Linked DNA regions of Homo sapiens. The protein of the gene in region 3 purifies or fractionates together with the protein of the main gene of each other region. This does not show direct contact. Each region holds a gene or a part of one and is shown on either strand. Other genes may lie near its edges.

Region 1 (3,595 bases), on a different chromosome or scaffold from region 3:
GCATCCACAGTTTTCAAAGTATTAAAATATTCTTCAAATTTTTCTTGTATGACAAAAAAACTAAAATGACCCTCCTGTTTCTGCTCCAAACAAGCACCAAGAAAAAAAGTGCAAAGACACAGTGGTATGTCTCTTAGTTCAATTTTTGTTTCCTGGAATTAGCAAATTAAAGGGCTAAATGACAACAACAAAAAATTCAAAGGTGTATATTCCCAGGACCTATATAAATAGTAAATAGAATTAAAATGGCTAATATCAGAAGCAATAATTCTTGAAAGAATTATGGACAGGCAGTACATTTTGGGCAATCTTAAACATAAAACTACGGACTGGCAAAATAATTAGGAGGTTGAATGTTTTTAAATTAAAAGTTCAGGACAGCATTCCTTGAAATCACAGGAACCCATATCCACTAAGAACATGACTCAGTTTGCCAAAAATTATTTCATATATACTTTTCATTGGGATATTTTGCAATGCAGATTGCATTTATGTAATTTATATATAGACATTTTTCAATGAATTGAAGAGAAAAGATAGCAAAAGGAGAAGGAGAAGAGAAAGCCAAAAGGAGAAGTCAGCTGAAATACCAGACTTGCTCCCGCCAGCTATGCCCACAGGAAGGTGAGTGGGCCCTTTTGACCAGACAAATGAACAAAAAGACAGCATATAAATAACCAGGTTCATTAGGTCAGCGGTAGCTACAGTCTAAGTTTGTATGTTGGAAAGAATTCAGCAAATAGATATAATAGATTCAGCATGAGCAGTACCTGAAATGTACCTTAAATACTTTCCCATCTTAAAACTCATCATTATTGGTACATTTCATGCTCTAAATGATAAATTCTGCCTGTCCTACTTCCCTTTTAGGCTTTAGGGAAATAAATATTTTATTGGATGTTCATATAATGGTTTCAGACAGAAAATGGTAGGAGTTACTACTGTAAGCAGTTGCTACTGTAAGCAGATATCTGTAACTACTACCCAAAAAACATTATCGAATGTTCAATGTTCCATATTCCAGCTGGACCCAAGAATACAGTATCCTAAGCAAAATGAACCAGAGTGTACTTACCAAGCATCATACTCAAAGAGAATATATCAGTTTTATTTAGACTTTTTGTATCACTGAACACTCCAAGGAATACATAGAGAATTGACTTTCAAATATTCGGATTCCTATGCAGTTTTTCCATAGGGCAAACTCTTAACATTCTCTCCATATTCTCAAAGCCTCAATGAGCTACACACCTTACCTACAGGACGAGACCTCGAACAACATGGATTCTAAGGAAAATGTCCAATTATTGAGTAAAAAATAATTGAGGAACTGAGTAATAAGATTCCAGACAAGTAAAAAGGAAGTCAGTCTGCATCTTGGCCTGTGACCCTCTCTTGACAAAATTCACAGACCACTAACTATGATAAGGCCTCAAGCAGAAAGAGTGAGGACAGCCTATTTTAATTTGAAGGGTAAGGTAAAGGTACCAGCGCTTAGATCTGGTTTGATGGCCTCTGACAGAAGAGATTTAAAAGTCTGGATATCCAGTAACGTCACTTAGTGTCTGACCCCATGTTCAGATCTGTAATCCTTAACAGGCTAATTCCAAACAGGCCCCTGACAAGACCTCTAATTCTATTTAAATATACAAATCTATACCATCATTCCACAGCTTACCACCTTTTTAATTAAAAAGAGGAAAATAAAACCAAACAATAAATATGAAATGAGTTCACTGTCTGGTTATAAACACATGTGGAATATTTTATATTCTCATCTTTTGTCAGCTATTATCCTGTTAATGTATAACACAATAAATAGTGGAAGAAACTTTCTTAATAAAAGCATCACTACTTAGCCTGTCATTCTCTAGTAACTTCCTCAGCTTAACAGAATCATTGTGTGGGAGGCAGTGAGGGAAGATATCCTGTGTGAACTCAGTGAAGAAAGACCTCTCAGAATGGAGTACTCTACAGAGATAATTACAGCTTTGGGAAAATGTGCTCAGAATAAAGCCAAAGGGCTGGAATTCATCAGATTAAGAGAAAGTGGAAAGCAACTTAGTGATACACAACCTTATGTATTATGGCGATTCAATTTTATTTGCTTTTTTCCCATCTCCAAAACAAATACCAAACAAGATTTTAAGTGAGAAAAGGTAGAAAAGGTAAGATGAAGACATAGGTAAGCTAGCACACAAATGTAGGCCAGAAGGTTTATATGCTTGTTGGAGGTGGGCCACAAATCTTGCACTGAGATTTCAAGAAACCAAAAGTTAAATGGTAAAACTCCTAGGTACTATTTATAATGTCCAGAAGACACAAACAAGTTCAAAAGAACTATGTCTGTTATTGAAACATAAGGTCTCTCACCCTGTCTCTGTCTCTTTCTCTTTCTCATTTTCTCATGGCATAATATCTTGGGGAGCAGACACCGTGAAATGTATTGCAGAATATCCTCATCTGCTTCCCTGTAACAGCTCCCACAGCAAGATTTTTTATTATTTTACTTTTTGAGACAGGGTCACACTCTGTTGGCCAGGCTGGAATGCAGTGGTGTAATCACAGCTCATTGCAGCCCTGACCTCCTGGGTTCAAGTGATCCTCCCACCTCAGCCTACCAAGTAGCTGGGACTACAGGTGTGCACCACCATGAACAGCTAATTAAAAACAAAACAAAACAAAACAAAAAAACTGTAGAGATGAGGTCTCTTCCCTATGTTGCCCAGGCTGGTCTCCAAATCGTGGACTCAAGCAATCCCCCTGTCTCGGCCTCCCAAAGTGTTGGGATTACAGGTGTGAGCCACTGAACCTCACCTCAAAACAAGTTTTATGAGAATTTTTTTTTTTTTGAGATGAAGTCTTGCTCTGTCGCCCAGCTGGAGTGCAGTGGCGCAATCTCAACCTCCACCTCCCGGGTCAAGCGATTCTCCTGCCTCAGCCTCCTGAGTAGCTGGGACTACAGGTGCATGCCACCATGCCTGGCTAATTTTTTTTATTTTTAGGGAAGACGGGGTTTCACCATGTTGGCCAGGATGGTCTTGATCTCCTGACCTCTTGATCTACCCACCTCCACCTCCCAAAAAAGTGCTGGGATCACAGGTGTGAGCCACCACGCCCAGCCGAGACAATATTTTTACAGCCTCCTTCATTATAGTTTAGTGACATGAGGCCTAAAACAGTTTAATTCAAAAAGAATCCCACAAAGAACCAAAATTATTTAATAGTCTTCATCTTCAGTGAAATGAAACACCACCACCACCATATATGTATGCATATGTACATATATATGTATATCATATTTTAAGATATTAAATTAAAAGCATAAGTAAACATCCCAGCACTTTGGGAGGCTGAGGTGGGTTGATCACGAGGTCAGGAGATCGAGACCATCCTGGCTAACACAGTGAAACCCCGTCTCTACTAAAAAATACAAAAAATTAGCTGGGCGTGGTGGCGGGTGCCTGTAGTCCCAGCTACTTGGGAAGCTGAGGCAGGAGAATGGCGTGAACCTGGGAGGCGGTGCTTGCAGTGAGCTGAGATCGCGCCACTGCACTCCAGACTGGGAGAAACAGCGAGACTCTGTCTCAAAAAA
Region 2 (3,595 bases), on a different chromosome or scaffold from region 3:
AGTGAGACTCCATCCCCAAAAGAATAAAAAATAAAAAATAAATGATCTAAATGCTACATCTTGGGGCCGGGCGTGGTGGCTCATGCCTGTAATCCCAGCACTTTGGGAGGCCCAGGCAGGCAAATCACCTGAGGTCAGGAGTTCGAGACCAGCCTGGCCAATATCCTGTCTCTACTAAAAACACAAAAAATTAGCCGGGTGTGGTGGCATGCGCCTGTAGTCCCAAGTACTCGGGAGGCTGAGGCAGGAGAACCGCTTGAACCCAGGAGGCAGAGGTTGCAGTGACTCGAGATTGCGCCACTGCACTCCAGCCTGGGCAACTGAGAACTGGGCAACTGAGAAAGACTCCGTCTCAAAAAAAAAAAGAGGAAAAAAAAAAAAAGCTACATCCTGGGGACGGGCACAGTGACTCATGCCTGTAATCCCAGCATTTTGGGAGACCCAGCAGGCGAATTACCTGAGGTCAGAAATTTGAGACCAGCCTGGCCAACACAGTGAAGCCCAGCCTCCACTAAAATTACAAAAATTAGTCTGGCGTGGCGGCAGGTACCTGTAATCCCAGCTACTCAGGAGGCTGAGGCAGGAGAATCGCTTGAATCCAGGAGGTGGAGGTTGCAGTGAGCTGAGACCATGCCACTGCACTCCAGCCTGGGTGACAGGGCAAGACTCCGTCTCAAAAATAAATAAATAAAAGCTACATCTTAGAGTATAAGAGTATTCTATATGATATGTTATCAACTTTATGTGGTAATGATAGCTTATAGTTCTATTTCTGGGATACTCTGTCTTACATTTAAGAACTCACTCTGACATGCCAGGGAGCTACCCTTTAGGCAAGTGGATTTCTGCAAATACGAATGGTTGCATGTGGCCAGGTGCGGGGGGCTCACACATGCAATCCCAATACTTTGGGAGGCTGAGGCAGGCAGACTGCTTGAGCCTGGGAATTCGAGACCAGCCTGGGCAACATAGCTAGACCCTGTCTCTACAAAAAGTAAATGTTTTTTAAAAAATGGTAGCATATATGGAAATAACTGAAAATATTAATCTTTCAAGGTAACATATGGAAATAACTGAAAATATTAACCTTTCAAAAGTTAGCAACTTTATAAATCTTGAGTACCTTTTCTGCTTATTCTCTTCAATTAGCTGAGCTCTGTGATGTTGCCATGTATGTGACGGGAAACACTAAAAACATGGTTCCCAAACTCTCTCTCTCTACACGATGTCTTCCCCATGCCCCAACTCTACTAAGCTCACAGGAACTGAAAAGATCTGCCTAACTGTACTCCCTCCCATCTCCTGACCTTCTCTTACCCCCCTCTTTCTAAACTCCAGTAAGAAGAGGTAAGGATCTACGTGGCTTTTAAAGTTTAACTTTTTAATAGAGAAATTATCATAGTATAAACCATACCAAAAATAACTTTCCAGAGGCAGAAACATACCTACGAAGCTGCAGATCATTACGCTGATATGAATGACTGCTTGAAAGAACAATGACTCTGGCACAGCCACTGCTTTTCACCCAGGAAAGCAGTTTTTCACAGAATGGCTTTGATTTATACTTTGCACACCATTGAGAGAATAAAAAGAAAATCTAAAAGTTAGTCTTAGAGCATACAAACATTCTATATACTATTTCATCAACTTTATGTGATAATGATATATAATTTATATATACTGAAATTATTTTCAGATCCACTTACTGTGCTTAAACCGAAAGTGAATGATAAAGAGCAATGAATTATCTAATGTATCTTTATAATTAAGAAATCAATGGCCATGCATGGTGGCTCACGCCTGTAGTCCCAGCACTTTGGGAGGCAGGCGGATCACCTGAGGTCAAGAGTTCAAGACCAGCCTGGCCAACATGGTAAAACCCCATCTCTACTAAAAATAAAAAAATCAGCGGGGCATGGTGGCAGGCACCTATAATCCCAGCTACTCAGGAGGCTGAGACAGGAGAATCACTTGAACCCAGGAGGTGAAGGCTGCAGTGAACCGAGATTGTGCCATTGCACTCCAGCCGGGGGAACCGAGTGAAACTTTCTCAAAAAAAAAAAAAAAAGAAAAAAGAAAAAGAAAAGAAATCAATGAATCATGAGGAATCTAGATTTCAAAAAAAATCTATTGTGATGGACAAAGGACAATTTCCCAGTTCTCTACTTGAGTAATCTATTGTTACCTAATAACCAATACATGGTCATCTGTGAAGGGTTCTTGCCAGAAATTTGTGACCCGAATCTGGTCACATGGAAACAATCAGATGAATGGAGAATGCTCCACATCCAGCCCCGGTTCCTCAAAGGAGTCAATATTGTAAAGAAAGAAAGAGGGGCAGGCCAGTTTTACTCTGAAGGATAACAACTAAAAAGATGTAACAGCCAAATACAACCTGTGAACCATCAATGGATCCAGAATTGAAGGATACTTTCGGAACAGCTGTGGAAATTTGAGTATGTTGGATGATACTCCTGAATAAATTCATTAAATGCTGGTTTTCTTGGGTGTGGTAATGGTGTCCTGTTCTTGAAAGATGTGTGCGGAAGTATGTAGGGGTGACCATTGCTAGCCTACTTCTGGATTGTTTCGAAGAAGGAAACTGTGTACGCGCATAGCGAGAGATCAAGTAGGTGTGGCAAGACATTCACAGCTGGTAAATCTGGAATGTGGGTTATAAAATTTCAGGGGGAGCCCGCTTTATGAAAATTTTTCAAAGACTGCTCATAAAATAACTACTCAATAAAATTTAAAATGCAGGTAAGAGAAATGCAGGCTAACTTTTAAAATAAGAAGGTAGTCTAGTGCAGCAGTTAAGAGAGGCAGGCTCTGGGACAGGCAAGGTGGCTCACTCCTGTAATCCCAACACTTTGGGAGGCCGTGGTGGGCAGACTACTTGAGCCCAGGAGTTAAAGCCCAGCCTAGGCAATATAGTGAGACCCTGTTACTACAAAAAAAAAAAAAATTATTACACATGGTAGTGCACGTCTGTAGCCCCAGGTACTCAGGAGGCTGAGGTGGGAGGATCATTTGAGCCTCGGAGGTCAGGGCTGTAGTGAGCCATAGTTGTGCCACTGCACTCCAGCCTGGGTGGAGTGACACCCTGTCTCAAAAAAAAAAAAAAAAAAAAAAGTAAAAGAAAAAAGGCAAGCTCTGGAGCCAGGCTGCCTGGGTTAGAGTGCTGGTCCTGCCTCCCTAAGATCATGTGTCAGGCAATTGCTTAATCTTTCTGTACTTCAGTGTTTCCTTTGAAAAATAAGGATAATATTAGTATCTGTCTTATAGGTTTGTCATGAGGATTAAGTAATAAATATAAGGTACTTAGAACAGTATCAGCACAAAGAATCAATGCTCAATAAATGTTTGCTATTTTGAAATTAGTCTTGTGGCCAGGCACGGTGGCTCACGCCTGTAATCCCAGCACTTTGGGAGGCTGAGGCGGGCAGATCACAAGGTCAGGAGATCGAGACCATCCTGGCTAACACGGTGAAACCCCGTCTCTACTAAAAATACAAAAAAATTAGCCGGGCGTGATGGTGGGCGCCTGTAGTCCCAGCTACTCGGGAGGCTGAGGCAGGAGAGTGGCGTGAACCCA
Region 3 (3,595 bases):
TGTAAATTTCACTATTTCAGTGAAGGGTTGCAATACCACCAGAGTATACCCCAAACAGTCTCCAAGCTAATTGTGTCAAATATCCCCAAAACACCATGTGTTTGTTTATTGTTTTATGTTTATGCTTTATTCCAACAGATGTTTCAGAGGTAGAAGGAGAAATTTATTCTACCATCCTTAGAAAGATCCCCAGAGTAGAAGAATATACTATTTGCAGTTGAAAAATCTGATTGGCTTATATGACTCATATGAGGTCAAATAGATAGCAGTTTATTGGTGGTAGGGTCACAACTAAAGGCCCAATATCCCAACTTTTATATTTTCTCTTACACCTTTTCTTTTCCCAGATACTTTATTTAAGGATGTTCCGCTGCACATGAGTTACATAGGAAAATAGGTTACTGTTGATGGGTATGAGGCTTCACAAATTTTATTGGATAGAAAAATAGCACTAATTTGCGCTTACAAAGATATTATCAACTCACTAGATTGGCTAACAAGACTGAAAGAAGCAAGTGTTGGTGAGAATGTGGAGCAACCGGAACCCTCATACACGGATGGTGAGAGTTTACCTGAGTACGTCTGTTTTGGAAAGCTGGTTGCCATCTACTAAGGTTGAATATATATGCCTCAGTAGATTTCGACTCCGAAATTTCACTTTTAGGTGAAATGGCCTCGAGAAATGAATATGTATATGTTCACCAGAATAAGTTCTAGAAAGTTCATAGCAGCACTTTGTAATCACCCAAACTTGGAAACTACTTAAGTGCCCATCAACAGAAGAATAACACATTTTGGTACATTCACGTAATGAAATACTAACAATGAGAATAAATGATCTACAACTACAGAACAACATGGATGAATCTCTAAATTTGAGAGTGAAGAAGTGACACACAAAGAGTAAATCATGTATGATCCTACATTCATAATATACAAAAACAGGCCAAAGTCAATCTATTAAGAGTCAAAATACTGCTTGCCTTTGGTAGGGGTTTGTTAATGAGTGGAATGGAACACAAGGCACGCACTGCTTTTTGATATGAGTGCTAGTTTCACTTACGTGTTCAATTTCTGAAATTTCAATGAGATGTATAATTAGGATAATTTTATTATGTATATTTCAATAAAAGTTTCTTTTATGTCTGGGCGCGGTGGCTCACTCCTGTAATCCCAGCACTTTGGGAGGCCGAGGCGGGCGGATCACGAGGTCAGGAGATCAAGACCATCCTGGCTAACATGGTGAAACCCCATCTCTACTAAAAATACAAAAAATTAGCCAGGCATGGTGGCCGGTGCCTGTAGTCCCAGCTACTTGGGAGGCTGAGGCAGGAGAATGGCGTGAACCTGGGAGGTGCAGCTTGTAGTGAGCTGAGATTAAGCCACTGAACTCCAGCCTGGGAAACAGAGCGAGACTCCGTCTCAAAAAAAAAAAAAAAGTTTATTTTATGAGACTAAATAGTTTAGGAGTGGAAAAAGGAAATGTGTGATCACCAAATAGAAAATATGCCTAAGTATTCTCCTCATACAAATACAATCCCTGGGGACTCTATATTTAACCTAAATTGCTAATAACATTTTAGAGAATGAGGAAAAAAGATGTTTCAGAATCTCTTCAGGATGAAAGACTTCTGGTTTTGTTTACCCGCTTTTCCATTACTACTTTTAATGAATGAAGTTTGTTGCATTTATTCCTCTGAAGTTTCAAAACCAAACCACCAGATATGTACTGGGCACCATATATGTATAAGAAATTATGCTAGGCAGCATGAAGAGATATAAAACTGAGTAGCATGGCTCTTCCCCAAAGCAGGGATTTTAACCTATGGTCATGAGGTGTCTGCAGACACGTTCTGGGAAGACCTTAAATGTTCAGAGATCCTTGGCAAAATTTTGTGTGTACTTGATTTCATCAGAGTCCCCAAAGAAGTCCTAGTCTTCCTCAGTCCTCAACCACCACAACAACAAACGAAGAGCCACTCCCAAAAGTTATGCAATCTAGTTGGGAAATGTAGTTGACAAGGCAATTTTACAATCACTGTACAGCAAATAGCTATAACTAAATGGATAACCTTAGCCTAGTTCTTGTGTAAGATTGCTATGTGGAACTCCAGCAGAAATGTTGTGGGATTTAGTGGGTGGCATTTTTCCTGGTACTGGCTTAACATTCTTGTAAGGCCTTCCTTCAAGATGTTAGTATAAATTATGATACGGGAAATGTTACTTTTATAGTTAAAAATATACCAAACTAATGATTCGTCACCTTTCAAGTTCCCACACCATTTTGTTTTCAAGACAGCTGTTAATACATGATCCATTTTTGAATATCATTGTCCATTCATAAATAGCACCTGAGAAAAGCTGAATTTAAAAGGTTCCTAAACCAGTGGTAGCTATAATTGACTATGCGGGAAAGATGCATCCTAATTGGTATGTTTCCTTAGGCAAGAGTATCAGTTATAAACATGGTAGCACAATTTCCAAGACATGTAGATGATTCTTAGCCCAGGACTACACTAATCTGTAAAACTATATGGGAAGATATTTATATACCTATGAATTTTATTACTACCCAAAAAGACGTATGATTTTTTTTTGTTGTTTTTGTTTTTTTTTTCTGTGACAGAGTCTTGCTCTGTTGCGCAGACTGGAGTGCAGTGACAGGATCTTGGCTCACTGCAACCTCCACCTTCCGGGTTCAAGTGATTCTCATGTCTCAGCTTCCCGAGTGACAGGAATTACAGGTGTATGCCACCACACCTGGCTAATTTTTGTATGTTTAGTAGAGACAGGGTTTCACCATGTTGGCTAGGCTGGTCTCAAACTCCTGACCTCAAGTGATCTGGCCGCCTTGGCCTCTCAGAGTGTTGGAATTACAGGCATGAGCCACCACAACAAGCCTGAAATTTTTTTAAAAAGAATAACCCTACTTTGTGGGTTATGAAAGGCTGATGAATCACAATAATATTGTAGAGGAGATATACGGGTTTTTACATATTACCCTCTTGGTAAATTAAATTGTAAAGTTCAGTCCTTAAAACAAGTCTTGCACTGAGTTTAGGATTACTATTCACTTGTCTTCTAACATCATGTTCTATCCACCTAAATAGAAGTAATGCTATCTGTTACTTTTTATCAGATTTTATACTACTTCTGTTGCTTTTTATCAGATTTTATACTACTTCTACTTAAAAGGGAGAGATTTTTGGTTTTGAGCACCATTTGTAAGTAATTTCAACCCCAAACTGCAATAGTGTTTTAAACAGGTCATGTTAGTGGATCCTAATTTAAATAAAATTCTGCTTATCCAAAATAGGATATTATGGGCAGTTAGTAAAGTGACAATGGCTATTTGCTGAGTCCAGAATGCAATAGACTAGTTTCCTATTTGTTTCTTGTGCTGTCTGCTTTATTACGAAAAGATTGCAAAATTCCTTACCTCTTCTTCCTCCTCCTCTTCTGAACTGTCATCTCCATTTTCTTCGGATGAGTCACTACTGCCCTAAAAATATATACACATGTATGTATACTCTTATCTGTGTACAAATATATTCAACAGCAATTTAAATTTCCTGCTAATTGAATCACAATAAAA
Region 4 (3,500 bases), on a different chromosome or scaffold from region 3:
GTAACAATCAAATTGTTTTGGTAGAACTCTTTCATGCACATTATCTTATTAAAGCCTCCTGCTCTGAGGTAGAAAATAGTACTAGCTCCATTTCACAGTTAAGCAAGTGAGCCCACAGAATTAAGCAACTAACTCCAGGGCACTTGGCAAGCACATGGGAGAGTCCAAACCAGTAGCCACATGTTCTGATTTCTAATCCATTGTTTCTTCCACATTACGTGATGTAAGTAGCTGAGCTATGCCCCTGTACTTTGCTGTTAACTTTCTTAAAATGGGTAACATTCATAAACAAATTAAATACCTGCTTCTCAGGAACTGCTCCAACCAGAAGTTCCTTTTCCTCTCCCTCTACCTTGTATGTCTTCATAATCGAGCTAAACTTTATAAAGTGTGTATATATGCAAATTATATATTGTATACACACATACATATCTTTGTTATGCTGAATTTAGCTTTTCTCCCTTTTTTCTTTTCCTCGCTCCTTATTCTTAAAGCAAATAAGCACAACTTTTTTCTTTTAAAATTTCCCCTGAAAATCCACAAAGCTAAATTAAATTGCATTCACCTCTGTAGCCTTTCAGTAATTTTCTTCCAGTTAGTCTATGTCTCTCAATATCATTTTTAAGAGATTTCTTTCTGGTATAGCAGTTTGATCAAAGACATACAGTACAAATTTCCCTTTAATGTCAAACAACTTAAGATCTTCCACTGTGGAGTGTCCCAAAGTTACCTGCTAGTTTCTCGGCCAAGCAGCCTAGGACTGCAGATGTGTTCCTGTGTTTGGCAGGATGGCTTGAGTCCTGGCAAGCTACTTCTCCATTTAAATTGAGAATTTCAGTCAATTTCTGGAGTGCATCCTAAAACAAAAAAGTACAAGTGGGTTTGACCCATATACTACACAGGTTGTTTTCCCAGGCTCATTTTTTTTTTGAGACAAAAGCTATAACCAGCACTTTGGGAGGCCGAGGCGGGCGGACCACAAGGTCAAGAGTTCGACACCAGCCTGGCCAACATGGTGAAACCCCATCTCTACTAAGAATACAAAAATTAGCCAGGTGTGGTGGTGCGCGCCTGTAATCCCAGCTACTCAGGAGGCTTAGGCAGGAGAATCACTTGAACCTGGGAGGTAGAGGTTGCAGTGAGCCGAGATCGTGCCACTGCACTCCAGCCTGGACGACAGAGCAAGGCTCCGTCTCAGGGGGGTGGGGGGAGCTATAACCAGGTGTTAAATAAACTCAGAATGACCATATAAAAATTATGCAATGTACCCTAATGATATCATTGATGGGAAATATCTGATCAACCTGAAAGTCTCCTTACATGACTTACTAGATTCCACTTCATTCAGAATGCTTAAGTTGTATCAAATATATGCTACATATTCTTGAATCACTAAACAGATTAAACCCACTCAGATGCCATTATGAAAACATTAAAGGCTGGTGATGTTGAAGTAAAAAGTTACTTTAAAAAAAGTTTTACTAAGCAAAAACAAATCCCAGCAGAGTTTTCTTCTTTTCTTTTTGCTCTTGCTCTGTTTCCCAGGCTGCTGTGCAGTGAAGTGATCATGGCTCACTGTAGCCTTTACCTCCTGGGCTCAAGTGATCCTCCCACTTCAGCCTCCCTCGTAGCTGGGACTACCGGCACATGTCACAGTGCCCAGATAATTTTAATTTTCTGTAGAGATGGGAATCTCATTATGTTGCCCAGGCTGGTCTTGAACTCCTGGCCTTAAGTGATCCTCCTGCTTCAGCCCCCAAAAGTTTTGGGATTATAGGCATGAACCACTGCACCCTGCCCCAACAGAGTTGAAGGCAAATTGAAACAGGCAGCTCTTATAAGCCTAGGCAAAGGTCAATTCATTGGTGACTACGCTAAAGACTTTCCCCTTCCGTCCACAATGTTTTTCTGCACTGGGCTTAAACAGATGAATGAAAATGCCAGAATTGAGGCTGGGCACAGTGGCTCATGCCTGTAATCCCAGCACTTTGGGAGGCCAAGGTGGGAGGATGCTTGAGCCCAGGAGTTTGAGACCAGTCTGGGCAACATAGCAAGACTCCATCTTAAAAATGAAAGATGCCAGAATCCAAAAGAAGAAAAAAAGAAAAAAAAAAAGGACTCTGTAAAACACATGGGAAAGCAATGAAAGTTCGATGCTTTTGTTCTATGTAAAGGATAACCAATGTTACACTAATCATTAATACATTTGAGTAAGATTCAAAAGTGCTTTCAGTTTTAACTTTTTTTTGTTGTTGTTGTTGAGATGGAGTCTCACTCTGTCGCCCAGGCTGAAGTGCAGTGGTGCAATCTCAGCTCACTGCAGCCTCCACCTTCCGAGTTCAAGTGATTCTCCTGCCTCAGCCTCCTAAGTAGCTGGGATTACAGGTGCACGCCATCGTGCTGGCTAATTTTTGTATTTTTAGTAGAGATGAGGTTTCACCATGTTGGCCAGGCTGGTCTTGAACTCCTGACCTCAAGTGATCTGTCTGCCTTGGCCTCCCAAAGTGTTGGGATTACAGGCATGAGCCACCGTGCCTGGCTTTCTTTTTTTTTTTTTTTTTTAACAGAGACAAGGTCTCACTATGTTGTTCAGGCTGGTATCAAACTCCTGAGCTTAACTGATCCTCCTGCCTTGGTCTCCCAAAGTGCAGGGATCACAGGCATGAGCCAGTACATTCAGCCCAGTTTTTCCTCTTAATAAAAAACATTCTTAAAACTTTTGTTATGAGGAAATTGCTTAGAGAAAGATAAGAAAATCAGCGAAGCAACTCAACATTCTCTTCTAGCTTCTGAATAAAGATCGCCACCTGAGATACAAATACTTCTTTTTTTAACCAGGCTGGAGTGCAATAACGCCATCTTGTCTCACTGCAATCTCGACCTCCAGATTGCAAGTGATCCTCCCACCTCAGCCTCCTGAGCAGCTGGGACTATAGGCATGCACCACGTTACCCTGTTAACTTTTGGATTTTTTTGTAGAAACAGGGTTTCACCATGTTGCCAGGCTGGTCTTGAACTCCTGGACTCAAACAATCTGCCTGCTTTGGCCTCCCAAAGTGTTGAGATTACAAGTGTGAGCCACTGCGCCCAACCTAAATGCTTCTTTTTTTTTTTTTGAGACAGAGTTTCGCTTTGTCGCCCAGGCTGGAGTGCAGTAGCACAATCTCAGCTCACTGCAACCATTGCCTCCCAGGTTCAAACAATTCTCGTGCCTCAGCCTCCTGAGTACTGGGATTACAGGTGCCTGCCACCACTCCCGGCTGATTTTTAGTAGAGACGGGGTATTTTAGTAGAGACGGGGTTTCACCATGCTGTTCAGGCTGGTCTCGAACTCCTGACCTCAGGTGATCCACCCACCTCAGCCTCCCAAAGTGCTAGGATTACAGGCGTGAACCACCGCGCCCAGCCTTAAATGCTTCTATTTTTAACATTTAAAAAATTTTAACCTAGGCTGGGCACAGTGGCTTACACGTATAATCCCAACACTTTGAGAAGCCAAG

What was found.
Region 1: the proteins of IBSP (region 3) and PLXDC2 purify together in Homo sapiens (affinity purification with mass spectrometry; one large-scale study listed by BioGRID and IntAct). This does not show direct contact.
Region 2: the proteins of IBSP (region 3) and PSMG2 purify together in Homo sapiens (affinity purification with mass spectrometry; one large-scale study listed by BioGRID and IntAct). This does not show direct contact.
Region 4: the proteins of IBSP (region 3) and RSPRY1 purify together in Homo sapiens (affinity purification with mass spectrometry; one large-scale study listed by BioGRID and IntAct). This does not show direct contact.

The regions. Positions count from the first base shown.
Region 1 is NC_000010.11:19,822,928-19,826,522, reverse strand, and holds part of PLXDC2 (plexin domain-containing protein 2 isoform 1 precursor), read right to left. Parts: intron 1-3,595. UniProt on the Homo sapiens protein: May play a role in tumor angiogenesis.
Region 2 is NC_000018.10:12,716,486-12,720,080, reverse strand, and holds part of PSMG2 (proteasome assembly chaperone 2), read right to left. Parts: intron 1,565-3,595; coding exon 1,446-1,564; intron 1-1,445. UniProt on the Homo sapiens protein: Chaperone protein which promotes assembly of the 20S proteasome as part of a heterodimer with PSMG1.
Region 3 is NC_000004.12:87,806,029-87,809,623, reverse strand, and holds part of IBSP (integrin-binding sialoprotein precursor), read right to left. Parts: intron 3,503-3,595; coding exon 3,440-3,502; intron 1-3,439. UniProt on the Homo sapiens protein: Binds tightly to hydroxyapatite. Appears to form an integral part of the mineralized matrix. Probably important to cell-matrix interaction. Promotes adhesion and migration of various cells via the alpha-V/beta-3 integrin receptor (ITGAV:ITGB3).
Region 4 is NC_000016.10:57,210,329-57,213,828, reverse strand, and holds part of RSPRY1 (RING finger and SPRY domain-containing protein 1 isoform 1 precursor), read right to left. Parts: intron 858-3,500; coding exon 731-857; intron 1-730.